Linked DNA regions of Homo sapiens: all the other regions are linked to region 4. Evidence: fine-mapped expression QTL. A gene starts in region 4. Each other region holds a variant in brackets. All regions are shown on one strand. Distances are from middle to middle. Region 1 has its middle 16 kb from the start of MRGPRX4. Region 2 has its middle 9.2 kb from the start of MRGPRX3. Region 3 overlaps SERGEF (secretion regulating guanine nucleotide exchange factor). Region 4 holds the start of TPH1 (tryptophan hydroxylase 1). Region 5 overlaps SAAL1 (serum amyloid A like 1). Region 6 has its middle 28 kb from the start of TPH1. Region 7 overlaps SAAL1 (serum amyloid A like 1).

What was found.
Region 1: its variant is fine-mapped to the expression of TPH1 in gastroesophageal junction (GTEx, PIP 0.99).
Region 2: its variant is fine-mapped to the expression of TPH1 in lymphoblastoid cells (GTEx, PIP above 0.99).
Region 3: its variant is fine-mapped to the expression of TPH1 in visceral fat (GTEx, PIP 0.95).
Region 5: its variant is fine-mapped to the expression of TPH1 in whole blood (TOPMed, PIP 0.92).
Region 6: its variant is fine-mapped to the expression of TPH1 in lymphoblastoid cells (GTEx, PIP above 0.99).
Region 7: its variant is fine-mapped to the expression of TPH1 in unexposed skin (GTEx, PIP above 0.99). The same link has a PIP of 0.9 or more in atrial appendage, esophagus mucosa, esophagus muscle, fibroblasts, lung and pancreas.

What each region holds. Positions count from the first base shown.
Region 1 is chr11:18,154,581-18,158,580 of GRCh38, reverse strand. No RefSeq gene overlaps it. Among named protein-coding and RNA genes, the nearest start is that of MRGPRX4, 16 kb to the left of the region's middle. The variant TCTGTCCAG/G (reference allele first, on the strand shown) is at 1,598.
Region 2 is chr11:18,139,794-18,143,793 of GRCh38, reverse strand. No RefSeq gene overlaps it. Among named protein-coding and RNA genes, the nearest start is that of MRGPRX3, 9.2 kb to the right of the region's middle. The variant TA/A (reference allele first, on the strand shown) is at 1,769.
Region 3 is chr11:17,909,262-17,913,261 of GRCh38, reverse strand. All of the region lies in intron 9 of SERGEF (secretion regulating guanine nucleotide exchange factor), which reads left to right. Among named protein-coding and RNA genes, the nearest start is that of SERGEF, 100 kb to the left of the region's middle. The variant C/T (reference allele first, on the strand shown) is at 1,708.
Region 4 is chr11:18,044,391-18,048,390 of GRCh38, reverse strand. TPH1 (tryptophan hydroxylase 1) reads left to right here and starts at 2,122. Exons shown (of 11, transcript NM_004179.3): 1 at 2,122-2,150.
Region 5 is chr11:18,095,005-18,099,004 of GRCh38, reverse strand. SAAL1 (serum amyloid A like 1) reads left to right here. Exons shown (of 12, transcript NM_138421.3): 3 at 2,151-2,234. Among named protein-coding and RNA genes, the nearest start is that of SAAL1, 9.1 kb to the left of the region's middle. The variant G/A (reference allele first, on the strand shown) is at 1,828.
Region 6 is chr11:18,072,590-18,076,589 of GRCh38, reverse strand. No RefSeq gene overlaps it. Among named protein-coding and RNA genes, the nearest start is that of TPH1, 28 kb to the right of the region's middle. The variant T/C (reference allele first, on the strand shown) is at 2,239.
Region 7 is chr11:18,082,440-18,086,439 of GRCh38, reverse strand. SAAL1 (serum amyloid A like 1) reads left to right here. Exons shown (of 12, transcript NM_138421.3): 10 at 2,709-2,905. Among named protein-coding and RNA genes, the nearest start is that of SAAL1, 22 kb to the left of the region's middle. The variant G/A (reference allele first, on the strand shown) is at 2,116.

The DNA of each region.
Region 1 (4,000 bases), 110 kb before region 4:
CAAGTTTTGTCTCAGAGGAGTACCCAGCCATGTGAGGTGTCAGTCTGCCCCTACTGGGGCGTGCCTCTCAGTTAGGCTACTCGGGGCTCAGGGGCCCACTTGAGGAGGCAGTCTGTCCATTCTCAGATCTTAAGCTGTGTGCTGGGAGACCCACTGCTGTTTTCCAAGCTGTCAGACAGGGACATTTAAGTCTGCAGAGGTTTCTGCTGCCTTTTGTTTGGCTATGCCCTGCCCCCAGAGGTGGAGTCTACAGAGGCAGGCACGTCTCCTTGAGCTGCGATGGGCTCCACCCAGTTCAAGCTTCCAGGCTGCTTTGTTTACCTACTCAAACCTCAGCAACAGCAGGCGCCTCTCCCCCAGCCTTGCTGCCGCCTTGCAGTTTGATCTCAGAGCTCTGTGCTAGCTATGAGCGAGGCTCCATGGGCATAGGACCCTCTGAGCCAGGCATGGGATATAATCTCCTGGTGTGCTGTTGGCTAAGACTGTCAGAAAAGTGCAGTATTAGGGTGAGAGTGACCCGATTTTCCAGGTGCTGTCTGTCACCCCTTTCCTTGGCTAGGAAAGGGAATTCCCTGACCCCTTTCACTTCCCGGGTGAGGCGATGCCTCTCCCTGCTTCGGCTCATGCTCAGTTTGCTACACCCACTGTCCTGCACCCCCTGTCCGACAATCCCCAGTGAGATGAACCCGGTACCTCAGTTGGAAATGCAGAAATCATTTGTCTTCTGCATCGCTCACACTGGGAGCTGTAGACTGGAGCTGTTTCTATTCGTCTATCTTGGAACCGCCCACTCCCCCCTTGCTTTTTTTGGTGTTTTCTGACACTGAAGGGTTGAACATATACCAGGGGGAAGAGTCGGGAGAGCAAGACTTTGGTTTTTGGCTTGTCCTGCTGGGGTGACCTGGCTGGCTCTCTCCAGACTTGACTGTATTTTAGTTCACGGTCCACTAATTTCACAAAATAGATGTCAACCTCTACCACTTCAAGGCCACAACAGACATCACTCGTTGTTCAGAGCACTCCATCCTTGAGCCTATTATTTTTTTCTTTTATTTATTTTTTCATTTTATTATTATACTTTAAGTTCTAGAGTACATGTGCACAACATGCAGGTTTGTCACATATGTATACATGTGCCATGTTGGTGTGCTGCACCCACTAACTCGTCATTTACATTAGTTATATCACCTAATGCTACCCCTCCCCCTCCCCCACCCCACGACAGGCCCCGGTGTGTGATGTTCCCCAAATGTCCATCAATGATAGACTAGATTAAGAAAATGTGGCACATATACACCATGGAATACTATGCAGCCATAAAAAAGGAGGAGTTCATGTCCTTTGTAGGGACATGGATGAAGCTGGAAACCACCATTCTCAGTGAACTATTGCAAGGACAAAAAAACCAAACACTGCATGTTCTCACTCATAGGTGGGAATTGAACATCCTTGAGCCTTTTAAGAGGGTTCTCACAACCATGTCCAAATGCCTGTGGTGGCAAAAGAAATGAAACATTTATGTTCTGATTGCCATTCCCAAAAAACTCTATGCTTTTATTTGCAGTGCCACCAGGAATTACCTTTTCTACCATTTCCA[TCTGTCCAG/G]ATCATATTTAGCTTTCATTGCCTAATTCAAAAATGTATGTGACTGGTTGAAGAGACAGAGGGTACAAGCTGGGCGAATTGTAGAGTTGTCACTTCAAATTCCAAGTATTTCAAGAAACCTTCCCTGGTCTATTCACCACCCTAGACACACTTATTAATGGGGTTTTTACCCTTTGCTCCAATCTCAGTGTTTAATCCTAGTGGATTTTGAGCCATCTTTGCCAATATGATAAGCATGTGTAATAGGATCTTTTCTTCCACACTCTACTGTAGCTTCTGGAAAACAGGAGCTAAATTCCATCTATTTTTATAGTCACCATTTGTGCACTGACAATATTGGTGCCCAATACATACCACACTATTGTCTGAGTTCTAGGTAATTTTCACATGTGTGAGAAGAATATATGCTCAATGTCATTATAGTCACGATGTAGATATGTGATCTTCTGCATCTGCCTGACTCTCAATGATAGTTACCTTCAAGTCTATGGTAAAGTAAGCTCCCACCAATGGTTTCTTTTACCTGGACACAACTGGCATAAGATTCAGACTAGAGAAATCTCATAAACTCACTAGCTGCTTCAGTGGCCTGGATAGGGCATGTGACCCAAGTTGGCATGGAGTCAACATGAGAATCCAGGTTCCCTGACTCCAGGTCCACTGTTCTTTCCAATCTAGCATTGTCCATTCTGCATCCCTACATATCCCAGGATTTCCTGATGTTAAGTTGGGCTTTACCGGCGGCAAGGGCTTCCTCTGTTGGAATACAGGGTGGTGGAAGCAGGTAGTTCTGTAATGCCTATGGCCTACACACCTGTAGGGACTCTCCTTGAGAAATGTTTCCACAAATTGTGCAGTGGTGATACATCAGACTGTAGACTGAGCAACGTTACAAGATTCGGCAGAATGAGTTTTGCCCTTCCATCAATTGTAAACCTTTTGCTGAGGATGTATTTCATCCTCATGTGTAGCCACCTGGTGAACCCTCCCTTAATTTTTGGAACCATATTGTCATGCGTACGAGGGAAGTTGGATGTGATATTCCCCTTCAGGATGGGAGTAAGAGAACTGAGAGTTTTTAGATGCCTCCTCCTTTGAGCACCCTAGACCCACAGATGCAGCTCTGTAATAGCATGTTTCACAGTGTGCAGCAGTCTTCCCTGCACTAGGCTCCATCCTTTTACAGACTGTAAGCTCTGTGAAGATGGGTATGTTTTCTCTGATGCCCCAGTGTCTGGCATGCAGGCTAGAAGATGGATGATTCTCAGTATGTATTTATAGAATAAACAGAAGAATGAGCATATGACATTGCTATGAAAAGCCAACTTAGTGACAAATTCAGCACTGAAAGTGGACAGTTCAAATGCAAAGGTCTATTAAACGGCATTTGTAAAAAAAGATATATTTATAATATAAAAATTTATTTGTAAGTAGAATTCACTTACCAAAAATGAAGGAGATGAAGGACTTTCCTTTGAGAAGTGTTCAGCAAATAGAATTCTACTCTACCTGTCTTGCAGAAAGCACATCCATCAAGCATTGTCTATCACTTGCAGTTTGACTTTATTAAAATGGAGATCATAGCATCATATGAAAGAAATTCTGCAGGAAGATGTTTCTCAATATTGTTAAATTTTTTCAGTGCAGAACAGTTGTCAGGCTCACAGCTAAAATTCGATAACAATAATTTTGAATCCAGCCTTTACTGCTCCTTTTAGCATGCACATTAGTTTTCACTGAACCTACACTTTTACTTTCATACTCGTATTTCATTGATTTACATTGTATTTTGATAAATCAGGCACAGCATGCTTCACTTAACAACAGGGATACATTCTGAGAAATGCATCCTTAGGCGATCTCATTGTTGTGTGAACATCATAGAATGTCCTTAGACAAATCTAGATAGTATAGCCTGTTATATGCATAGGCTACATTCTATGGCCTATTGCTTCTAAGTTACAAACCTACACAGCAATAACTGTACTGAATAATGTAGGCAGTTATAGCACAATGTAAGTATTTGTGTTCTAAATACATCTAAACATAGAACAGGTACACTAAAAGTGTGGTACTAAAGATTAAAAAATGATATTCCTGTATAGGGCCCTTACCACGAATGGAGCTTGCAGGACAGTGAGTTACTCTGGGTGAGTCAGTGAGTGGTGGGTGAATGTGAAGGCCTAGGATATTACTGTACACTACTGCAGACTTTATAAACAGTGTACATTTAGGCCACACTAAATTTATTAAAAATTTTTCTTTCCTCAATAATAAATTAAACTTAGTTTACTGTAACTATTTTACTTTATGAACTTTCTAATTTTTAATTTTTTCTCTTATGTAATAACACTTAGCTTAAAACACAAACACATTGTACAATTGTACAAAATTG
Region 2 (4,000 bases), 95 kb before region 4:
CTAACCCCATGCTTTTTATTATCTTTTATGAATGCCTTCTGACCCTGGAGGGCTGCACATATGCCTTCTGACCCTGGAGGGCTGCACATATGCCTTCTGACCCTGGAGGGCTGCACATATGCCTTCTGACCCTGGAGGGCTGGAGGAGGGTATGGAGAGCAGGACATTGACTTTGTGGCTTGTCCTGTTGGCCTGACCTGCCTGGCCCACTCTGGACTTTACATTATTATAGAGTTCACTCCTACGAATATCACAAAATTAACACCAACACCTACTACTTCAAGGCCACAAAAGATAATGTTCATTATTCAGAGCACTCCAGCCTTGTGATTCTATTTAAGAGGGATCTTGCCACCATGACCAGATACATGGGGTGATACAAGGAATAAAACTCATGTATGAATTATTCACCATTCCCTAAAAAACTGTACGCTTTTATTAACAGTGCCACTGTAAATTATCTCTTCTTCTATTTCCATCTGTCCAGATCCTATTTATCTCTCCTTCCCTAATACAAAAATTTGTGTGACTGGAAAAATTTACAGAGGGTATAATTATAATAATAATGCTGGGTAAATTGTAGTCATCAGTTAAAATTCCACCTATTACACGAAGCCTTCCATGATCCACTCACTTCTACATACACACTTAGGGATAAGATCTGCTGTGTCTCTTCTCTCCTTCCTTGTGTTTGCATCCTGCAAGGTTTCAGAAGAATTGGACCAATATGATGGGCATGAGCATTGAGATTTCTTCTTCTATACTCTGCTGTTGTTGTTAGATAACAGCAAACAAATGCCATCTATATCTATAGTCAGCATTGGTACATTGACAATAATGGTGCCCAGTGGATACCACACCGTCATACAGAAAAGCATCACAGCAGTCTCTTTGGATTCTAGGTCACTGCCACATAGGTGAGAAGAATATATGCTGACTGTGATTATAGTCACTGTGCAGAGACACGAATTTCTCAGGCGGTCTGGATCATAACAGTACTTATCTTCAGTCCATGTTTATGGCAAAGTCACACCTTGCCCACATATTCTGAAAAGAGATACCTGAGCACAAATGCACGAATGGCACAGTTTCAGACTGGGACAATCCCATAACCTCACTATCTGCTTGGTTTCCCTGGAATGAGCATGTGACTCATGTTGGCCATGCAGTCAGCTTGAGAATCCCAAATCCCTGAAACTATGTCCATGTTCTTCCCATTTTAGCACTTGCATATTCTGCACCCTTCTGTATTCTAAGATTTCTAGATGCTTTGATTTGGGTTTGCCTTGAGGTAAGGGATTCTTCTGCTGGAACACAGGGTAATGGTAGTAGGTAGTTCTGCAATGACTGTGACCCAAGCACCTGCAGTGTCTGTTGAAAATCTTTTCTGGAATTGTGCACTGGTGTGATATTGGACTATAGACTGAGGGCTGTTGTAAGATTCAGCCTATTAATCTTGTGATGTCATCAATTATAAAACCGTTGTTGAGATTGTTGTCCCGCATGAGCAGCCACCTGGTGAACGTTCTCTAATTTATTGGAGTCGTATTGCCCTGCTTCAGCTGGGTGCTTGGGGGTGGCATTCCTCTTCAGGATGGCAGTAAGATAACTTGGAATTTTTAGATACCCTCTCCTCTGAGCACCCTTGAGCCACAAGTACAACTCTTGGATAGCATGTGTCACACTGGGAGGCAGTCTTTCCTGCACTAGTGTCCTTCCTTCACAGGCTGTGCGCTCTGTGAATGTAGGTGTGTTTACTTTGACTCCT[TA/A]AGTGTCTGGCATGCAAGTTAGAGAATAGAAGATGCTCAGTATGTATTTATACAATAAACAGTAGAATAAGTGAGAGATACTGTTATGAAAAGCCCACTTAATGATATATTCAGGAATGCAAGTGGATAGGTTAACTGAAAATGTCTGTTAATCAGTATTCATAAAAAAGGATATGTTTGTAACATGAATATTTCATTTTTACCTAGAATTCATTCACTATAGTAGAACTAGACTACAGAACACTCCTTTGTGTAGGGTTCAGCAAATAGAATTCTACTCTATCTTGCTGAAAGCATATCTATCAATCATTGTCTATGATTTGCAGTGTGGATTAGTTTAAGTGTAGATCTTAGCATCAAATACATAGCATTCTCTCTGAGGATATTGTTCAATATTGTTCATTTTTGTTTAATCTTGTAGAATTGGAAGACTCACACCTATTAAACTAACAATAATTTTGGAACCTGCTTTTATTGTCCCTTTAAGCATTCACATTAATTTGTATGGAAACCACAATTCTTCTTTCATACTGGTATTTCATTGATTTGTGGTGTATTTTGATAAATTAGGTAATTATATTGACAAGTCTAATTGGCAAAAGCAAGACAGGAAACAGATCCAATTGGTTCTTGTGAGGCTGATGACTCAGTGCCCTTGAGCCCAGGTGTACTAGAGCATCAGTGAATGGCTACGAAGGCTCAGCATTTGCTCAGCATCAATAAATATATTTTCTTCATGAAGTGGAAAGGATTGGATATAGAGATAGGATGTATTAGTGAGAGACTTATTTGAAAGGTGTTTGCTTTTATGTAGAATTAGCACAATGCTTGATGAGTTAGGTGTGAAAGTTTGTTGAATTCATGCCTAAAAAATAGTCATGGGCCGGGTGTGGCGGCTGAGGCCTGTAATCCCAGCACTTTGGGAGGCCAAGGCAGGCGGATCACAAGGTCAAGAGATCGAGACCATCCTAGCCAACATGGTGAAACCCCGTCTCTACTAAAAATACAAAAAAGTAGCCAGGCGTGGTGGCAGGCCCCTATAATCCCAGCTACTTGGGAGGCTGAGGCAGGAGAATCGCTTGAACGCAGGAGGTAGAGGTTGCAATGAGCTGAGATCATGCCATTGCACCTCAACCTGGGCATAAATAAATAAATAAATAAATAAATAAATAAATAAATAAATGTGCTTGCGAAACTCCATCTCAAAGAAAAAAAAAAAAGTAGTCATGAATGGTAGCTCCCAAAAGGTGCCACGTGAGATTTTCATATCATTTCTCACTTTCTGGAGAATACTCCTGAATGTCCTGCATGCTCTTCCTCGACATGTAACTTTTAGAGGAAATGATATCATTGGCCTTGGAAAGAAGGCAGCTCATGAGCAGATTCCCACATCCCCTCCGTTCTTCTTCCCAGAGGCAGTGAGCAGACCTGCAATGAAGGGGAACAGCTGTTCTCAGAACGACCAACTGCAGAGGACACTCTGTTGAGTGGGAGGTTCCTGTAGGAGTTCCAGTGAGATCTGGTGACTGAGCCAGCCTTTGCAAGATGCTGGATGACCCTGTGATTTTCAGGTAGGAGCTGCTTGAGAGAAATAGTTACCAACACTCTTCTAAATTCCACACCTAGTCTGTTGCACTAGAAATTCCAAGACAGTTTCTCTGCTCTTAAAGACCTCAGGGTGCGGTTGAAGAGAAAGATGTGAGGACAAATATTTGAAGTACACTGTTATAAGTGCTGTAGTGGAGCAATGTGTGAGGCCAAGTGAGTTCAGAATGGGCTTCAGGGACAGAATCTAAGCCTTCATGAAGTTGAAGTTTTCTCCTATCAAAAGAAAAAGAATGTCACTAACATCAAAATAAGCAGAATCGCAGGTGAGAACCAACATGATTTGATTCAATTGCCAGGTGAAAATTCTCTGCAGAATTCCTCATGATAGACAACATCTTTAGCCAAAACTGTACAATTGATATCACAGACTTCCAGAGTGGACTCTCTCAATAACCCTCAGTCTGAACTAAAGACATCACAGCAAAGCTCCTGGCCCAGAGCATTGGCTGCAAACACTGCTTTCCTGCTTCCTGTCACCTGTAGGAAACTCTCAACTACAGCTACGTCCTACTACAGCATTTGGAAATTGAGGGTGGACAGATAGGATTGAGCATCAGCAGAATGCCAGGCCTGGAAGAGCAATAGATCTGGACTCAGGGGACCTGAGTTCAACATTGTGAACA
Region 3 (4,000 bases), 140 kb after region 4:
TGGAAGAAAGTGGGGCTAGTGGAGGCAGGATGGTGATTGGGTCTAGTATTGCTGATACAGGCTTATGCAGAGAGGACTGCCTGCCCTTGGCCAGATGCTGCGGGTAGCCAGTGCATCCCCAGGGTCATATACTACCCAAAAGGACAGGCAAGCAAGAGTTGCTAGTGCAGATATTTTTTCTTTCCCTCTGTCTGTTTAGCCAGGGCTGACCTAACTCACAGTCATTTGTTTCAGAATGTCAGTCCCTGAGATGGGCACAGACTTTACAGTTTGTAAGGATCCTTTGCACCCATTATCTCATTGGAATCTCACAGCAGTCCTATGAATTAAGTAAGATAAGAGTTATTGCTCCATTTTACTAATGAGAAAACTGGGGCTAGGATAGGGTAAAGTAGCTTATTCTACAGTTGTGTGGATGTAAAATATGAAGGCTGTGACTTGTTGAAGCTGGAGCCGAGAGGCCACTTGTCAGGGCTGCCTTAGGTGGAATGTATACACATTGTGGTAGAAGAAGTAGTGAATGCTTTGGCTCCCTCATAATCTAGCTGGGTGATTCTGCGCAAGTCCTTTATTATGCCTCTCACTTTTGTCAGCTATAAAATGGGAATATAGCATCTATTTAATAGGATTATTCGAAGATTAAAATGATCATTCATTATGAAAGTGTTTAGTACAATGCCTGGCATACATTAGATGATGTTCAGTTCGTTCCTTGGTTTTTAAACTTTTTAATTTTGAAATATAGATTCAGAGGGAAATTGATACAGATGATCCTATATACGCTTCACCCAGCTTCCCTCAATGATAGAATCTTATGTAACTGTCGTATCATATCAAAATCAGGAAATGGGCATTGGTACAATACCTCTTGTTAACTAGGCCACAAATGGTATTCAGATTCCCTGTGTTTTTTTAAAGAAAAATTATATCATTTCTGAGTTTGTTTCTGGTTCTGAAATGTTTTTATACAGTGTCATCATTATCCTTGACTTTTCTCTGGCATCTAACTTTTTAGAAGCTTTGTTCTCTGTTGGTTTTCATAACACTGTGTATTTCTCCTTGTCATCCCCCTGTCTCCTTCACCATCTTCTCTTCTTCTCTTCTATACTGTATGTCTCCCAGATTCAGTTCTTAGCCCCTGCTCTTCTCTCTGTTTGTTTTGTTTTGTTTCTCCCTCTTGGATAGGGTCTTACTTTTATCTTTATTCTGGAATCAGTATTCCCACCTCCACTTACCAAGCCCCTCTCTAGTTCCCTGTTTTTGACTATTTGCTGAATATAAGCTCAAACTCATCATATCCAAAGCTAAATTTGTCATTTTTTTAAACTCCAAACTACTACCCAGCTACCTCCACTTGACTTCCCTGCTTCCATTAATGAGTTGTCATTCAAAAACTGCTCAGGGCTGTACGAGGGGACTTTTTGGTGATAGATATGCTCATCATCTTGATTGTGGTAAAGATTTTACTAGTGTAGGATGGGCATGGTAGATAATGCCTATAATCTCAGCACTTTGGGAGGCTGAGATGAGCAGATTGCTGGAGCCCAGAAGTTTGAGAACAGCCTGGGCAACATGATGAAATCCCATCTCTACAAAAAATACAAAAATTAGCTGGGTGTGGTGGTGCGCACCTGTAGTCCCAACTACTTGGGAGGCTGAGCGGGGAGGATCACTTGAGCCTGGGAGGTGGAGATTACAGTGAGCCAT[C/T]GTGCTGCTGCACTCCAGTCTGGGCAACAGAGAGATCCTGTCTCAAAAAAACCTAGGTGACAAAGAAAGACTGTCTCAAAAAAAAATTTTTACTAGTGTGTACATATGTCAAAACTTATCAAATTACACACATTAAATATATGTGTGTGTGTATATATATGTGTGTATATATATTTTATATATATTTTAATATATAAAATATATATATTATATATAATATATATATAATATATATAAAATACCTCAATAAAACTTAAACAAAAAACTTCCCAGAGCCAGACATGAATCCTGGCCCCATCACTCATACAAGTTACTCACCTTTCCTCTGCCTCATTTTTCTCATTTGTAAAATGAGGGTTATAACAGTAATTTACCATATTGGATTGCAGGGAAGATTGAGTAGGTAAAGTGCTTAAAACATTACCTGATACATATTAAGTTCTTCAAAAGTATTTGTTGATGTTCCTCTCTTATTCATCTCATGTGCCCCATGTCTGGCACAGAATAGGTGTTTAATAAGCGTTTGTTGAATGAATGTTGCCACAGTCTTGAAGTACTATTTTCCCTCCCTGACTTTTATTTAAATATTGCTTCTTCTGTAAGGTCCAGCTTAGGTTCTACTTGATCTGTGAGGTCTTGTCTACCCACCTGAGCCACGAGGCCCTCCTGGCCACCCTCCTCTATCCCCAGCACTGATGCTTTGTATTAGCGTATTTGTTACTGATTCACAGCCAGATTTTTGGTTTTGCCTTTTTTTTTTTAAAGTGGCTTTCAGTATAGATATCTTTCTTCTTCATCTACATTGGACATCTTCTGAGGGCACATGTAATTTCTGATTTTTTTTCTCTATGTCCTCTTCGCCTATGCTGGGCATATAGTTGGTTTTCAGTAAAAGTAGAATGAATGAATGAATGAGTGAATGGTGTATGATTTGCAAAATATTAGGGAGACTTCAGACGACAAATTCCCATGATTTAGCTTATTAAAACAAACCCACAACAGGCCAGACATGATGGCTCATGGCTATAATCCCAGCTCTTTAGGAGACTAAAGCGGGAGAGAATTGCTTGAAGCCAGGAATTTAAGACCAGCCTCGACAACATAACAAGACTCCATCTCTATAAAAAAATTTTTTTTAATTAGCTGGGCGTGGTGGCACATGCCTGTAGTCCTAACTACTCGGGAGGTTGAGGCAGGAGGATTGCTTGAGCCCAAGAGTTTGAGGTTACAGTGAGCTATGAGTTCACCACTGCATTCTAACCTGGGTAGCACAGTGAGACCCTGTCTCTAAGCAAACCAACTAACCAACCCTGAACTTACAAGATTTAGCCTTGGAGGGAAAGAGAGAGAGAGAGAGAGAGTGTGTGTGTGTGTGTGTGTGTGTAGGTGGCAAATGGTTCCAAGTCTGTTCCTCTGAATTCACCTCTTTTGGATCTTAGGGGAACTGTAGGCCTCCTTTAACCCCTTGATCCAAGTTTGGACCCTGACCTTACTGTGAGTCCCCTGAGTGCAGCTGAGGCAGGCTGGCAGTGTTCTGACTTGTCTGAATGATAGTGCATGAGAGATAGGGAACTAGACAAAGAGAGAAGAAATGTGAAGCATCTGGCTCACTTAGTCTAGGACACTCAGTCTCTGGCCCTAAGGGGTGGATGCAACTCCCCTAACTCTAGCCTGGTCCTCTGCTTTCCAGCTGCAGCCCCTTGCCTCTGTGGGAGGTCTAATCAGAAACTTTCCCCCCAGGAGCTCCTTCTTGGATATATGACATTTTAATGTCTAAGATTGGAGGACCTGGTTTCTACTTCTCTGAATACACACTTCCTTTATTCAGTTTGAGAGATATATCCAGGATGATCACTATTCAGGTGACACTTCTGCCACTCCACTCTGCACAAATGTAGTTCTGGTTTGTCCTTTATTTGACTCTAATAGCATGATGATACCTTAGCCATATCATCAAGAAGACATCTATATTCTGATAGTTACACAAAATAACACATTATTCTGTGCCATCCCAGCTGGGCCCTGATCCTGCTTACAAGTTCATCATTATTAATACCATTCCTTTGGATTAAGCATTGACCTTTCCAGCAGAATCTCCCACTGGGAATGGTAACATATCAGGTTCCTCATACCTTGGAGTACATTCCTTTATCAACATGTGTTCTTTCTCGTCACAAGGAATCTGGAACAATTTATAAGCTCTGGATTCCTTCAAACAGAAGAGACAGCTTCTGGCCAAATAATAATTGTCAATTACATTGCTCCTTTCATTTACGAAGTGTTGTATGTCTCA
Region 4 (4,000 bases):
TAATGAGTTCACTGTAGGTGTGTGGATCCGTTTCTGGGTTCTCTATTTTGTTCCATTGGTCTATGTGTCTGTTTTTATGCCAGAACCATGCTGTTTTGGTTACTGTAGCTCTGCAGTATAATTTGAAGTCAGGTAATGTGATTCCTCCAGTTTTGTGCTTTTTGCTCAGGATAGCTTTGGCTGTTCTGGGTCTTTTGTGATTCCATATAAATTTTAGGGTTGTTTTTTCTATTTCTGTAAGGAAAGTCTTTGGTATTTTGATAGGGATTGCCTTGAATCTGTAGATTGCTTTGGGTAGCATGGACATTTGAACAATAAGGATTCTTCCGATCCATGAACTTGGAATAGCCTTCTGTTCTTTTGGTGTCCTCTTTAATTTCTTTCATGAGTATTTTATAGTTTTCATTGTAGAGATCTTTCACTCCTTTGGTTAATTCCTAGGTACTTATTTTATTTGTGGCTATTGTAAATGGGATTAATTTCTTTTTCATACTGTTCACCATTGGCATACAGAAACGCTATTGATTTTTGTATGTTGATTTTGTATCCTGCAACATTAGTGAATTATTTAATCAGTTCAAATAGTTTTTTGGTGGAGTCTTTAGGTTTTTCCAAATATAGGATCATATCATCTGCAAACAAGGATAATTTGACTTCTTCCTTTCCAGTTTGGATGCCCTTTATTTCTTCTCTTGTCTGATTGCTCTAGCTAGAACTTCCAGTACTATGTTGAATAATAGTGGTGAAATTGGGCATCCTTATCGTGTTCCAGATCTACAAGGAAAGGCTTTCAGTTTAGGAAAGACATCTTTGACCTCAGCTTGGTTCTGAAAGGTCTCTCCCTGACCAGTATTTTTTATGGCATTGAAGTAAGAGCACTGGATTTAAACTCAGACACTTTTGCTTGATTATTGATGGTACTTACTAGCCTGTGCCAGAATAACGTCTTAGAGCCACCCCTGTGCTTCAATTTCCGTATCTGTAAAATACAAATAATATGTACCTCATAGAAGCATTATACAGATAAAAGAAAAATGCATAGAAAAGCTGTAAAGATCCTGAGCTTTAAAGTACATCCATACTCAGCAAAAAAGAAAACAGGAAAGAAAAGGAACAAATCACTAATACCTGCATGAAACTCAAAAGCATTATGTTAAGTGCCAGGAGCCAAAAATCTGTACATATTTCATGATTTCATTTCTGTGACATTCCAGAGAAGGCAAAACTGTGGAGACAGAAATCAGATCAGTGGCTGCCAGGGGCTGGGTGTGAGGTGAGAGACTTTAGACAAGGGAAATTTCTCGCAGTGATAGAAATGTTCTATATTTTGATCGTTTGGTGGTTACACAACTATACATGTTTGTCAAAACTCAGAATTGTACACCTCACAGGGTGAATATTACTGTATGTTAATTATACATCAATAAATCTTACTTTTCAAACATTGGAGGAAAGAATGTCCTATAATATACTTCGTTATGTGTACAGTCCTTTGGGATAAGGAGCTAATCGACTGACTACTCAACCAGTAAATACCTATTCCAAATTTTTTGCCTCTATGTCCTGTTGTTCACAATAGCACGTAATATGATTTTTTGCTAATATAGAATGCTTCTCTGCTTGCAGCTTAAAATTTTTTTTTAATTAGAAGGGCACTGAACACTTCTCTTCTAAAAAGTTCAACTAACTGTTGCTCTGCCTCAAGGAATGGGGGAAAGCACCAAGAGAATAATAAGTCAGGACTGGGCTATTAAATAGCCCAGAAGCACAGAGAGGTGTGGGAGGTGGGGGGATTCTTGCTTTGGTCTCCAACAGGCGAGAAGCACTGCAGTCCTATAGCAGGTCATTGTGTCGATAATAGGCGTTATCTTGGTTTGGAGAGAATGTCCAACTCTGGATTGTTCAGTGTTAGTCAGACTTGTGTGGTTAAGGACGGCCTAACATTCACTTAATTAAAACACCAGTCAGATACACGCAGAGATTGAGGCGTGCAAGTCTCTGGGAGCAGGCGGACGCGACTGCCCACGCCCCACACCCGCCGGCCCTCCCTTCTCATTGGCCGCTGCCCAGCTGCTCCGACGCCCGCTTCTATAAGAGACAGGCAGCGCGGGGCCGCCGGCCGACCCAGCCTGCACCTACTGGCGCCCGAGGTGAGTGAGGCGGCCCTTCCCGCGGGCACCGGGGACCGCCGTCGAGGCTTTGGCGGCGCTTGGCAGGCGCGGGGCTGGGCAGAGTCACCCTCCCGGGAGGTAAATTGGTGGTCTTGCGGAGTCAGATTTGGGAGGTCGGAGTTGTACCCCTATAAACGCTTACTATTCTTTCCTCCCACGCTGTTTGGGGAGAAAAGACACTTTCTGAGTGCCTCCTGTGTGCCAGGAACAGACTCTTTAGCCATCATGAGATTTCACCTTCATGACAAACTCTGGTAGATATTTCTTGAGTCCCCAGATGAGGAAAGTGGGGTCCAGAGTCCAACCCAAGTCTGTGTGACTCCTCTATGTTGGCAGAAACAGTAAGATTTTTCTTCCTTCCCTTCCTCTCCATCAAAGGGCAATGTCTCTTTTTTTCTTCTCCTCCCATGAAGGGAAGCTTCCCTTAAACAGCCTCCCGAAGAAGAAGGAGTCTCAGATGCAAAGCTTCTCAGCATCGCACTTACCATCATCACCACCATCCCAACAGACGACTGAGAGCTTTTTGCAAGGTCGCAATTGACAAAGAGGACTAGGTCCTTGCGGTTTAGAGTCAGTTAAGAGTCCGTGTGAACTCAACCTTGCCTTTGGCGTTTGATTTTCAGAGGTTTAAAATGAACTTCTCATTGATGTCCCACTCTACTTGACTTAGCAGGAAAAAGACTAGAGTTGAACTTGCTAACCCAGGAAAAGTTTGTGCCTGTTAGTTAAAAAAAAAAGGGGGGGGTGGAATTCTAATATCAATGTTTCTGTAAAGTTATAATCTGTGGTTTACATATGTTATCACTGAGGTCCATTTGTACATGTATTATTAGATTATCTCCAGATAGGGATGTGTCTTCTATTTCCATTTTCTCTGCCAGTGCCTTTATTTCCTAGAATACTGTTTTTCATGGATAGTGTTTTCTTTTGTATTTCATCTACACTTTCATCCTCATTCCCACTCCTTATTTAGAAAAGAAAATCAAGACTCCGTAGAGGATTCCCTCCCTCTGAAAGAATCCTCCTTGCAGTTTTTAGTTCTGTCTTCAAACAATATCCATGCTTTCAAAAGACTAATTCAGTAGTGCTTTGTGCTTCCTAGATCCGGTAAATATAAATTACACTTGTTTTACTGATTAAACTAAGGGAAGAAAAGAGTTGGTCATTGTATACGCCTTGACCTCTCCCAAGGGTCGGGTCTGTTGATCTTCTGAGTGTCTTCTTGGTATTTTTTCCTTATTTCCAGTGGTATGTCCTACACAGTGCATCCTTAGGCCAGGAGACGCAGTAGGAAAATGACTCTACCTTTCATGAGAAAAGGGTACCAGTTGGTATTAGCTGATCAGAGAGTTGCTTTAAAAATAAAATGCTTATGTATTGATGAGACACTGATTCAAACAAGTGTGACCTATTTTATCTTACCAGGTTAGTATTGTGTTTTTTTGTTTTGTTTTGTTTTGTTTTGTTTTCCTGAAAGAGTAGGAGGAGGTGGGTAGGTTGAAAGGGGAAAGGAAAAAGTAACAAGGCAAAATATTGAGGTTCTGAAAGCGGTTTGGGGTTAACTGGAGGAAAAAATAACTGATGCCTCATAAGCTCTGTCAACCAAGCAAAGTTATGGCCAAGTTTTAGTAACGATCAAAGATCTATGTCCTGTAAGATTATTTTGGGGTGGGGGGGAACAAAAAAGAGGGTGAGAATTTTCTTCTAGTTTTCTAGTTTCTTAGCAAAAGTTCCTTTTGAGAACCTTCATTTTTACCATGACTTAAACAAGGAGGAGTGTTTCCACATCTTTTTTTTTGAGACGCAGTCTTGCTCTGTCACCTGGGCTG
Region 5 (4,000 bases), 51 kb before region 4:
TGCTTATGAGTGTAATGGGGCTAACAATGATAACTAGTTGATAGAGTTGTTTTGAGAATTAAATGAGATAGCATGCAAGCCACTTCACTGTGCCTGGCATTTAATACTTGTTCAATGAATGTTAATTTTATTACTGTTGGTGTTGATATTGTTAGGCCACCCTTGTGCTACTCCAGGAATTACCATTAAATTTAAAAATTTCTGCATGTGGCAAAGAATTGCCCACAGGACAGCTTGATCACTTACAGTGAAGAGAATCTGCCATTATGACTTTCAGTTTAGAGTGTATCTTTGAAAATACTATTTTCTCTGACCATGGTCCTTTAGTAAGTAGAGTGTGTCTCTCTCAGTCAGTTGTCTGGCAGGTTACTGGTTTCACTTGCTGTGGAGAATAATTGCCTGTCTCTTTGAGATGTTCCAGGGCCCTTAATTTTCACATAAGCCATGCAGCTTATATTTTAAGTTAAGGCTTCTCAAATACACACCTCACATTTAGTGAAAATCTGAAGCAGTGGACAGCCAGAGACTTAATTTTATTTATATATTTTACATTGCAGGTCCCCAAGCAAACTGACTTAGCTTTTGTGTCTTACATTCCTAGGTGAGATTTGGCTCATTTGGGGCCACATGTCCACTCACATGTCACCTGTGTGTTACGCCCCTTTAGGCACTGTGGCAGACTCTGTAGGAAGAAGTTATGAGGCTGCCACAGTTACATTGTGATCAGAATTTTTATTCTATTGATGATTTTGAAAACACAAATTCTGGTTTTGGACAGGACCCAATAGCAGTTCTTGACTTCTTTCCCCTACCGTGTTTTAAGCTCTTGGAGGACAAGAAGGAATTTTGTTTTTGTTTGAGACAAAGTCTCACTCTGTCGCCCAGGCTAGAGTGCAGTGGCGAGATCTCAGCTCACTGCACCCTCTGCCTCACGGGTTCAAGCAATCCTTCCACCTCAGCCTCCTGAGTAGGTGGGACTACAGATGGTACACCACCATGCCCAGCTAATTTTTGTATTGTTTGTAGAGATGGCGTTTCACTATGTTTGCCTAGGCTGGTCTCGAACTCCTGGGCTCAAGTGATCCGCCTGTCCTGGCCTCCCAAAGTGTTAGGATTACAGGCGTGAGCCACCTCGCCCAGCCAAGTTTTACCTTTTTTTTTTTTTTCCTTTTTTTCTCGCTGTGTTGCCCAGGCTGGAGTACAGTGGCAAAGTCATGGCTCACTGCAACCTTGAGCTCCCCAGGCTCAAGTGATCCTCCCACCTCAACCTCCCAAGTAGCTGGGACTGCAGGCATGTGCCACCACACCTGGCTAATTTTCGTATTTTTTGTGGATATGGGTTTTCACTATGTTTGCCCAAGCTGGGCTCAAGTAATCCACCCACCTCGGCCTTCTAACCAGCCTCCCAAAGTGTTAGGATTACAGGTGTGAACCACTGCGCCCAGCGTGTTGCTTTTTTCCCTTGTCCCCCGCTTCTAGTTTAATACCTGATAGGTAATCACCAAATGTGTTTGAATGTGTTTAATGAGAATTCCTAGTGGGCAGAAAAATTATTAAGGTAAATAGATTCGGGCAGAAAAGAGTGGGATAATCCTCTGGAGTATTGTAGGTAGTTTAGATTTGTTTATGAAATTGTTCCATTGTCTGGGACTAGTTACCATAAAGACTCTCTAACATCACTTTTGTCTGTTGACACAGTTCCTAAGCCTGTGTTTTTTTTTTCTTGTGTCTAAAATTCTAATTTTATTTTATTTTTTTATTTTTTTTGGAGACAGAGTCTCGCTCTGTCACCCAGGCTGGAGTGCAGTGGCGTGATCTCAGCTCACT[G/A]CAACCTCTGCCTCCCGGGTTCTAGCGATTCGCCTGCCTCAGCCTCCTGAGTAGCTGGGACTACAGGTGCATGCCGCCATGCCCGGCTAATTTTTTTGTATTTTTAGTAGAGACAGGGTTTCACCGTGTTGCCCAGCTGGTCTTGAACTCCTGAGCTCAGGCAATCTGCCAGCCTTGGCCTCCCAATGTGCTAGGATTACAGGTGTCAGCCACTGCGCCTGGCGTAAAATTCTAATTTTAATATAGAATTTTATGGTTGCCTGAGCTTTAGGGTTTAGGGAGGAATATTCAACATCCAAGTTAATAATCATTTTTCTTTTCAGGACGTGGCTTTATTTCTCCAAGAATTTAATGCTCCTGATATATTCATGGGAGTACTGGCCAAGTCCAAGTGTCCTCGATTAAGAGTAAGTATGTACATTTCTAAAGCCTTCTTCTTTGAAGCAATAAGAACAGATAGTGCTGGATAGTCTTTTATTTTTCTCACTTTGATTTTCTTACTGACCATAAATCAACAAATCAGCCTGTAGATGTTAATTGAACATTGCCAGGTCCTAGGTAATTTGCTATTTAAATTTATTTTATTTTATTTTTGAGACAGGGTCTCACTATGTCTCCAGGGCTTGGAGTGCAGTGGCGTGATCACGGCTCACTGCAGTCTTGACCTCCTGGGCTCAAGGGACCCTCCCACCTCAGCCTCCCAAGTAACTGGGAGTATAGGTGTAAGCCACCACACCCAGCTAATTTTTATTTTTATTTTGTGGAGACAAAGGTCTCCTTATGTTGCCCAGGCTGGTCTTGAACTCCTGGCCTCAAGTGATCCTCCCACCTTGGCCTCCCAAAGTGCTGGGATTATAAGCGTGAGCTAAATGCCTGTAATAATTTAAAATATTAAATTATTAATAATTTAATAATTTAAAATTATGAAAATCATAGAATTTTAGATTCAGGCCGGACCAGGGAAATTAGCACTTTCATTTACCAGCTGTGGAGACGAGTTAGGCATAACCACTGTTATGCTGCTAGTATGTATCAGAACAAGGAACAGAGCCTGGGCCTCCCATTTTTCAGTTGATTTCTCTTTTTTACTGACAAAATCCACCATTGCTTGAAAACCATTCTAAACTCAGCCTGCTGCTTAAGACCTCTACTCTCTGAACCTAACTCATCTTTCCAGCATAAAATCTGGATAGCCAGGTAACCCTTCTGATTTAGCCAGACCTTTCTACTCCCTGTCTCATGCTGTCTCCGTGCCTCCCTTTGTGTGCCTTCTGTCCCCTCTCAGTATTTGCATCTGTTAATTCACAGTGGTACTTTTCCTTCCACACCTTCCCAAGTAAGTAAGTAAGCTTTCAGTAGTCATTGCTGTTAGTAAACTGCCAAGAACAATAGATAAAGACTAAAGGAGAGGCCTTTATATACTGTGCAGTGTACTGTGCTTTATTGCCAATTAAATTGCCATGTGCTATGCATATCATGGATTAGTAAATATCTGTTCAATAATTATAATTATGAAAAACTGCTGTTTACTGAATACCTGGTCTTACTACTATGAGGTATACTTTCAAAGAACTAAATCTTGGGTGAAGATATGTGTTCAGGGTCACACAGCTAGGAAAGAATGGAGCTGAGATTTCAGCCTAGGCCTGACTTCAGTATAACCACTGTACTGTATTTCCTCTCTTTCAGATTATAAAATGGAGAATTCCATAGTGTATTTTTACAAATTGAATGTTGAATTAGAATTCTTATTTAAGTAGAATGTTCTCTCTGAATTAGGGCCTGATTAACCGTTTTTTCCTTGATTCCTTATATTAATATAAGATTTGATGATTATGCTATTTTTATACTGAGTTTTTCTGTCTTAAATATATTTACTCACTACTAGTATATAAAGAAATAAGCTTATGTCAGGAATGGCACCTTTTAGGAATTAGTCATATTGTTGTATTATATCCGCTGGCCACCGTCTGCTGCCACAGTGATTCTCAGCCTTGGCTGCATGTTAGAATCACCTGGGACAGGGACTCTCAAACTTAAGCATGTCCCCGCATCACTAATTGCCGAGCCTCCCTCCAGAGTTTCTAGTCCAGTAGGTCCAGGATTCCTAATATGTTCCCAGGTGATGCTGGTGCTCTGGTGCATTGCCACACTCTGAGAAGCTTTACCCTAG
Region 6 (4,000 bases), 28 kb before region 4:
GCTGGAGTGCAGTGGCGCAATCGCGGCTCACTGCAACCTTCACCTCCCGGGTTCAAGCGATTCTCCTGCCTCAGCTTCCTGAGTAGCTGGGATTACAAGCGCATGCCACCATGCCCGGCTGATTTCTGTATTTTTAGTAGAAACGTGGTTTCACCATGTTGGTCAAACTTGTCTCAAACTCCTGACCTTGTGATCCGCCCACCTCTGCCTCCCAAAGTGCTAGGATTACAGGCGTGAGCCACCATGCCTAGCCTAGCTAATTTTTATATTTTTAGTAGACAGGGTTTTACCATATTGGCCAGGCTGGTCTGAAACTCCTGACCTCAGGTGATCCGCCTGTCTTGGCCTCTCAGTGGGCTGGGATTACAGGCGTGAGCCACCACACCTGGCCTATTTATTGATTTTGTAGAGATGGGTTCTCACTGTTTCCCAGGCTTGTCTTGAACTCCTGGCTGCAAACAATCCTGCCTCAGCCTCCCAAAGTGCTGGGCTTGCAGGTCACCACACCTGGCCTTCCTGTTAAAGGTTTATAAAAGCAAATAAATGATACACAACTTAAGCTTTAATTTGATTATGAATGATGCTTATTCCTTTTATGTCATTGGGCTAGTCAAACTTACAAGAGCCTGGGCCAATGTAGTCTTGAGTCTTGTGGGCCAGTCCAGCAACCAAAAAAAAAACCACAGGTGAGACTGGAAGCAGGAGGGAACCTTGTGGTGGTGCTGCTAGCCCTCCACTCACCTCTCATACTATTTGTTCATCAACCTGACTGCTTTGTATTTCTATATAGAATGCAAAATCTGCATCGCTAAGCTTTTATGATGTATCTTAGATAATTTGCATGAGGTCACATTTGCTTAAATCCAATTTTATACAACCCAAGGAACATCTGTAATATAAAAGCCAGAAAACCTCCATAAGTTCACATTTCACAGCCAAGGATTTCGTAATATCAGGCTACTCCTTCTATCATTATGATTGTGCCCATGTGATTGCCCTTTCTGAACAACTGTGTTTTCCCTGGACGTTTGCAAGATTCTATAGTGTAGTAACATCATGGAGTAGGGCATTCTCATTTTATCCTAATTGTTCATGCCTCAGGGCTCTGGCAAGGATCACAATTCTGGGAGAGGGTCATGCCACACTGAAATTAGACCTGGAGGGGAGAGGATCTGTACCCAAGGAGGTGGCATCAGGGTCTGCTCTGAGTCCCTGTGTCACCTGGCTTCCTTATTTCCGTTTCTTCTTTCTTAGGACTTCAGCTTGTCTGTGGTCTCTCAAGACCACACCAGCCTGTCTTTTTTGGGGGGTTGTGTTCTGCCAGCTTAATCACTTTATTCTCTTGGTATTTCTTTAAATTTGTGAGAGAGAAATTCTTGCGCAGTTACTAGTCTTTTTGTATCAAGCAGTGTGAGTCACCTGTGATTTGGCTACTTTGGGCTAAGTGTGTGACCCAACACAATCAACTAAAGTTGAAATTAAAATGAGTGTGATACGAAATTTACCTCAGGACACAGAAGGATGTGGTAGACACCAGACTTAATTTCCTGTTAGAGATGACCGCCATTTATTGAGGATTTACTATGTGTCAGATGCTCTGTAAAGGTCTTTAGGTATATTATTTAATTTTGCAATAATCCCATAAGGTAATTGTCACCATTTTATAGATGGAGAAATGAAGATTCAGAGTGGTAAAATAACTTGCTGAAAGTTATTTAGGTAGTAAGTAGCTGACCCAGGGCTTGGATCTGGACCTGCCTAGCCTAATGAATATTCTTTTAGCCACTATACTGTACTTGCATACTGTGGGGAGGCATGGACTGGAGCATGAAGGTCTTGATAGATCACATGGAAGAGACAGCTAGGCTATCTGCACATCCACGTTCCTTTCTCCAAAATTGCCGCTGGACTGCCCACATTCTTCCCCCGGTTACAGCGTATGGTTTAATAAGGGAATTACTCCTAACCCAAGCTGGACAACTCAGGTTGGCTCAAGGACACAGGACTCTAGACCACGTAACTTACAAGGCTGAGGGCACTATTTGGGAGGAGGCAGCCAGTCATATTTATCATCCACTATGTACCAGGTATTCTAAGGACTAGGAAGACAGCAGTAAACAAAACAGACAAAATCTGTGTAATAGAAATACTGTGGACAAAGCAGAAAAAATCTTGACCTAGTGGGCCTGGAATTCCAGAGTCATGTGTAAGAAGAACAGAGGAAGAAGCTGGTCTGCA[T/C]AGAGGTCATGCATCCTGTAGCAGACTGGATCATTATTCTCGATTCTTCACCTCTGTGTATCGTGCCCTTGCCATGGCTTCTCCGTGAATGGAGTGTACTTCCCTGTCCCTTGACTTTGAGCTTGACCAAGTCACTTGCTTTGGCCAATAGAATGTTAATGGAGCTGATGTAAGCAGAGTACTTTTAGCAGTTTGCTTGTGCTCCTGTCATTTACCGTGAGAAGAGCATGCCCTGGGTAGCCATTGATCCATGAAGGATGAGAAACATGGAGCAAACCTAAACCCAGTCTGCAGCCGGTGCTGGGTGTGGTGGCTTACACTTGTAATTCCAGCTACTTGGGAAGCTGAGGTAGGAGGATTGCCTGAAGCCCAGGAGTTTGAGGCTGCAGTGAGCTATAGTCGTGTCACTGCACTTCAGGATAGGTGACAGAGCAAGACCGCATCCTCTAAAAAAAATTTTTTTTTTTTAATCTGCAACCTGGAGTCCAGCCTAACCTAGCTGAGTTGCAGCCAACCTACAGATCTGTGATGAGTAGTTAAATGATTATTGTTTTGAATCATTGAATCTTGGGGTAGTTTGTTACACGTCTTTACTGAAGTAACCTCTCACTGAAACAGCATGAAAGAAAAGCTGCCTTAATGCTCAGCCGCTTTCCAGCTTCATGTCACAGTCTCATGGGTTCCAGCAGTAATTCCTGCTTTAGGTTGTCTGTAAGATATGCCCAAATCGCTATAGTAAATTTAACTTATAATAAATTCTACTTGGGATATGATCATTTGCATTCCCATCTTTAAAAAAAAATGGCACCGGGAATGGTGTAATAAGTGACAGACAGAGAAAATGTGGAAGTGTCTGTGGGATTACAGAAGGGTAGGATGCAGGGTAGTGAAAGTTCCCCAATTCTGGATGAGACACAAACCATCCATGATATAAGGTTCTGAAGAGCCAACTGATTGATTTCTTGTGTGTCCTTGAGATCTAAACCACAGGCCTCATGGGGCTGAGGAGGATTTTTTTGTAAAACGTAGTGGAAAAGGGAAACTCTCTGGTCCTCAGTGGCACATCACCATGCTGAGTGTGACCTTGAAGGCAGTGAGAAGCCCTTAAAGTGTCATGATCACTGAAAGCCTTCTGAGGGAGGAGGGGCTTGATACAGAGAGGTTTAGCAGTAGACACAACTGGATTTGGGCATCAGTTTGAAGCAAAGGAGAGTGAGAAGTTAAATCCAGAATTCTGGATTAGGTGACTGAATAGATGATGGCGTCATTCATCATGATAGGGAAGTAATCCAGGAAGAGTTGCAGGTAAAGGTGGGTAAAAGACGTGTTCAATTTTGAATACCTGTTGGACATCCACATGGAGATGTCCCATTTCCATACAGACTTGGAACTCTGTGAGAGAGTGGGCTAGAGATACAGCTTAAGGACTTAGGACAAAGCTCCAAGGAATACAAACATTTAAAGGGCTAACAATGTCGATGAAAGAGACAGGTTGTACAGAGACACTGGACTAAATTGGGAGAGATTTACAGCTTATAAGTGACAGTTCACAAGGAAATAGTACATTTGAAGCTGAACACCAGATCCACTGTTCTCACCTCTGAACATGACTGCTCCACCTAGGGCTTAGGAAAAGTAGCTCCGTGTGATGAATTGGCGCTGGACACTCAAAATCATAGCCTTCTACAGAAAGGTTTCCTATAAGGATATTTCCTGTAAGGAACTTATATTTCACACCCATGCTTGACCAAGCAGGTATGGC
Region 7 (4,000 bases), 38 kb before region 4:
GGCGTGAGCCACCCCACCTGGCCTGTTTACTTATTTTAAAGCCAGAGTCTTATTTTGTTGCCCAGGCTGTAGTGCAGTGGCAGGATCATAGCTCACTGCAACCTTGAATTCCTGGGCTCAGGTGATTGTCTCACCTCAGCCTCCTGAGTAGCTGGGACTACAGGCACATGACGCCACACCTGGCTAGTTTTTAAATATTTATAGAGACAGGGTCTCACAATCTTGCCCAGGCTTGTCACAAACTCCTGGGCTCAAATGACCTTCCTGCCTTGCCTTCCAGAGTGCTGGGATTACAGGCATGAGCCACTGCACCCTGCCGAAAAATTTATAAAAAATATCAAGGAAACATGATGTTTGTAATCTTACCATCCCACACATGCACATATATTTAATTCTGCTTTTTAGCCAACATTTCATTTAGAAATATAAAATGAATATTTTCCTATATAAACACATATTCTTTCACAGAATTGTTTTTATGACCACAATTAAATTCATGATTCATTTAGAATTTATTCTCGTGTCACATGTGAAGTGTGGCTTTAATTTTTTTTCCCCCTTTGATAACTTTGGTTCTAGTGGTATCAGTTTTTTCCCAGAGGGCTACCCAGTTATCTCAACATCATTTAGTGAATAATCCAGCTTACCCACACTGATTTGAAATTTCATCATTATTTTTAAAATTCCCCTATATATTCTGTTCAGTTCCATTGCTGTATTCATATATTAGTAGCCATAGTGTTTTTAAATATTAAGGTTTTATGTTTTAATACCTAATAAGGCAAATTCCTCTTCATTCTAAGTTTTCAGAATGTTTTTAACTATTTTTATCACTAACTTTGAGTTCCAAAAACAAAAAATTTCTGACATTTTTGTTGACATCGTGTTAACTTGATAGGATATGTTATGCCCTTTTATTTGTTCAGGTCTTTTTTGTGTCCCTCAGTAATGGTTTCTTCATATGGATCTTGGATATTTCTTATTAGTTTCATTCCTAGATAATTGTATCTTTTGGGTTTACTATTGTCTGTGACATATTTTCTTCCACTGATTATTATTGTTGGAATATATGAAGGCTATTGATTTTGGTATATTAACTTTGTATCCTGTAACCTTACCAAATTCTTAATATTTTTAGTAGTCGTTCCAGTAATAATCTTTGGGCTTTATCTGATAGTGCTTTGGCTTAAGTTAGATATATTTTATCACTTGTCTATCTCTGGTTTATTCTTCTTGTCTTTCTGGGTTGCCTAGAGTCTCTGGTGTAAAATAATAGTGATGGTAGAAAACATCCTTACCTTCTTCCTGATTTTAGTAGGAATAATCCTAGAGTTCCATTGTTAAGCATTATTGGGTATAAGATATATGTTTTACAGCCAGGTGCTGTGGCTCACACCTATAATCCCAGCACTTTGGGAGGCTGAGGCGGGCAGATTACCTGAGGTCAGGAGTTCAAAGTCAGTCTGGCTAACATGGTGAAACCCTGTCTCTGCTAAAAATACAAAAATTAGCCAGGCTTGGTGACGCATGCCTGTAATCTCAGTTACTCAGAAGGCTGAGGCAGGAGAGTTGCTCGAACCTGGGAGGCAGAGGCTGCAGTGAGCTGAAATCACGCCATTGTACTCCAGCCTGGGCAGCAGAGCAATACTCCGCACCCCCCCTCCAAAAACAGATATATGTCTTACCATTTAAGGAAATATTAATCTGTTTCTATTTTATTAAGAGTTTTTAATAAAAAAGGAATGTTGAATATTTTTAAGATCTTCATTTGTAGATACGTTACCTCATTGAGAAGGTGGCATTGAGTACAGTCCTTAGGGACAGAATGGAGGGAGTCATGTGCATACTTGGGGAGAAGAACATTCCAGACAGAGGGAATGGAAAGTGTAAAAGCCTTCAACCAGAAGTATGCCTGGTGTCTTTGAGGAGGAACAGTGAGATCCCATATGGCTGGGGTGGATTTAGCAAAGTAGCACATGGAGCCAGAGAGGTAGAGTATGGAGGGCCTGATGTTGCCTTTTCCTCTGAATGAGGTGGGGAACCATGGTGGGTTTTAAGCAGAAGTTGCCTACGCATGAGCTGGCTTTAATAGGCTGCTGTTTTGATGAGAAATAT[G/A]GGGAGTCATGGGTACAAAAGGGACATGAGTTAGGAGGCTTTTAGAGATTCTTCATAATTGACTCATAGCAAGAAATGTTATAACTTGGACCAAGATGGTAACAGTGGTAGTGGTAGAAAAATCCTGTGAGCTAATTTTTTTGTACTTTTTGTAAAGACACGGTTTCACCATATTGCTCAGGCTGGTCTCGAACTCCTGGGCTCAAGCTACCCGCCCATCTTGGCCTCTCAAACTGCTCAGATTACAAGCGTGAGCTACCACCCCTGACCTCCTAGGGTATTTTAATTGCTGATGCTTCATTGCTTTAGTTCTCAACTCAATGTTACCTTGTCAGAGAGCTAGCCCTGCTAGGCTGCTATATTATATTCCTCTTTTATTTCCTTCATAGAACTTAACCAAAACCTGAAATAGTCTGTTTTATTTACTTATTTGAAAGTATAAAAATGTAAGCCTCTTATGGGCTGACATCTTGCTGATGTTACCAGTGTATCTGTAATACCCAAAATAATAATGTCTAGCACTAATTCAATACATATGAATGAAAAACCAAACTTAACTGGCCAATTCCATGCTTCTTGATTTGTTTATACAGTAGATCTTCCTCTAATTGACAGCCTCATTCGGGTCTTACAAAATATGGAACAGTGTCAGAAAAAACCAGAGAACTCGGCAGAGTCTAACACAGAGGAAACTAAAAGGACTGATTTAACCCAAGATGATTTCCACTTGAAAATCTTAAAGGATATTTTATGTGAATTTCTTTCTAATATTTTTCAGGCATTAACAAAGGTAGGAAAGAAGTATTGATGATGTCATAAGCAAAAGAAAGTGTGGGTTGCTTAACGCTTCAAACTTTATTTTTTTTTAAATATGAAAGTAATATATAATTTGGGAAAATAAAGTAAAATCTTAATATCACCATGAGTTTATAATCTTAAAAACAACTAGCTGATGTGGTTTGGTATATTTACGTGTGACAGACATATGCCTATGTTTGCATGCATGTGTTTTTATAAATGCATTTTTCATATACTTTAACCCAGCATATGCAATTTTTATAGACTACTGTTTTCCCTTAACACTGTATTATAAACATTTTTCTTGATTCTAGATGAAAGACTTTTTTACTGAGAGCCAGTTTAAACCTAATTTACCAAATAATCAGTTTTCAAAATTTACTGCAAACTTCTTTTAAGGAACATTCTCCCTGAATATGTTCAATGGTTATTAATATTCTTCTTTTGACCATGTTTTTTCTATCCATATATTTGGAAAGAAATGTATTATGAATATGTTATGAATATATTGTATTATGAATATAAAATGTTATAAATATAGCTGTGAAGAATATATTTATTCATACCCACTTAATTTTTTAAAGAGTATTCCTTAAGAAGTTTCTCTTGGCCAGGCGCCTATAATCCCAGCACTTGGGAGGCTGAGGCAGGTGGATCACTTGAGCCCAGGAGTTTGAGACCAGTTTGGGCAACATGGCAAAACCTCATCTCTACAAAAAATACAAAAATTAGCTGGGCATGGTGGCACACGCCTGTGATCCTAGCTACTTGGGAGGCAAAGATGGAAGGATTGCTTGAGCCCAGGAGGTCGAGGCTGCAGTGAGCCCAGACTGTGCCACTACACTCCAACCTGAGCGACAGAGTGAGACCCTATCTCAAAAAACAAAATGAAACAAAAAGTTTCTCTTATTCTGGTGATTTTTTTTTTATTAGTTGTCTTGCTTCCCTTTTCCATATTTGTATTTTCCAGATTTGGGGTTATTACCTTAGCAGGTTTTATATAATTTAAATTACTGGATTCAACATTATAAATGTGAAGATGGCTAAGTCATGATGGCCATATTTTGTCAAAATGCTATTTATATGT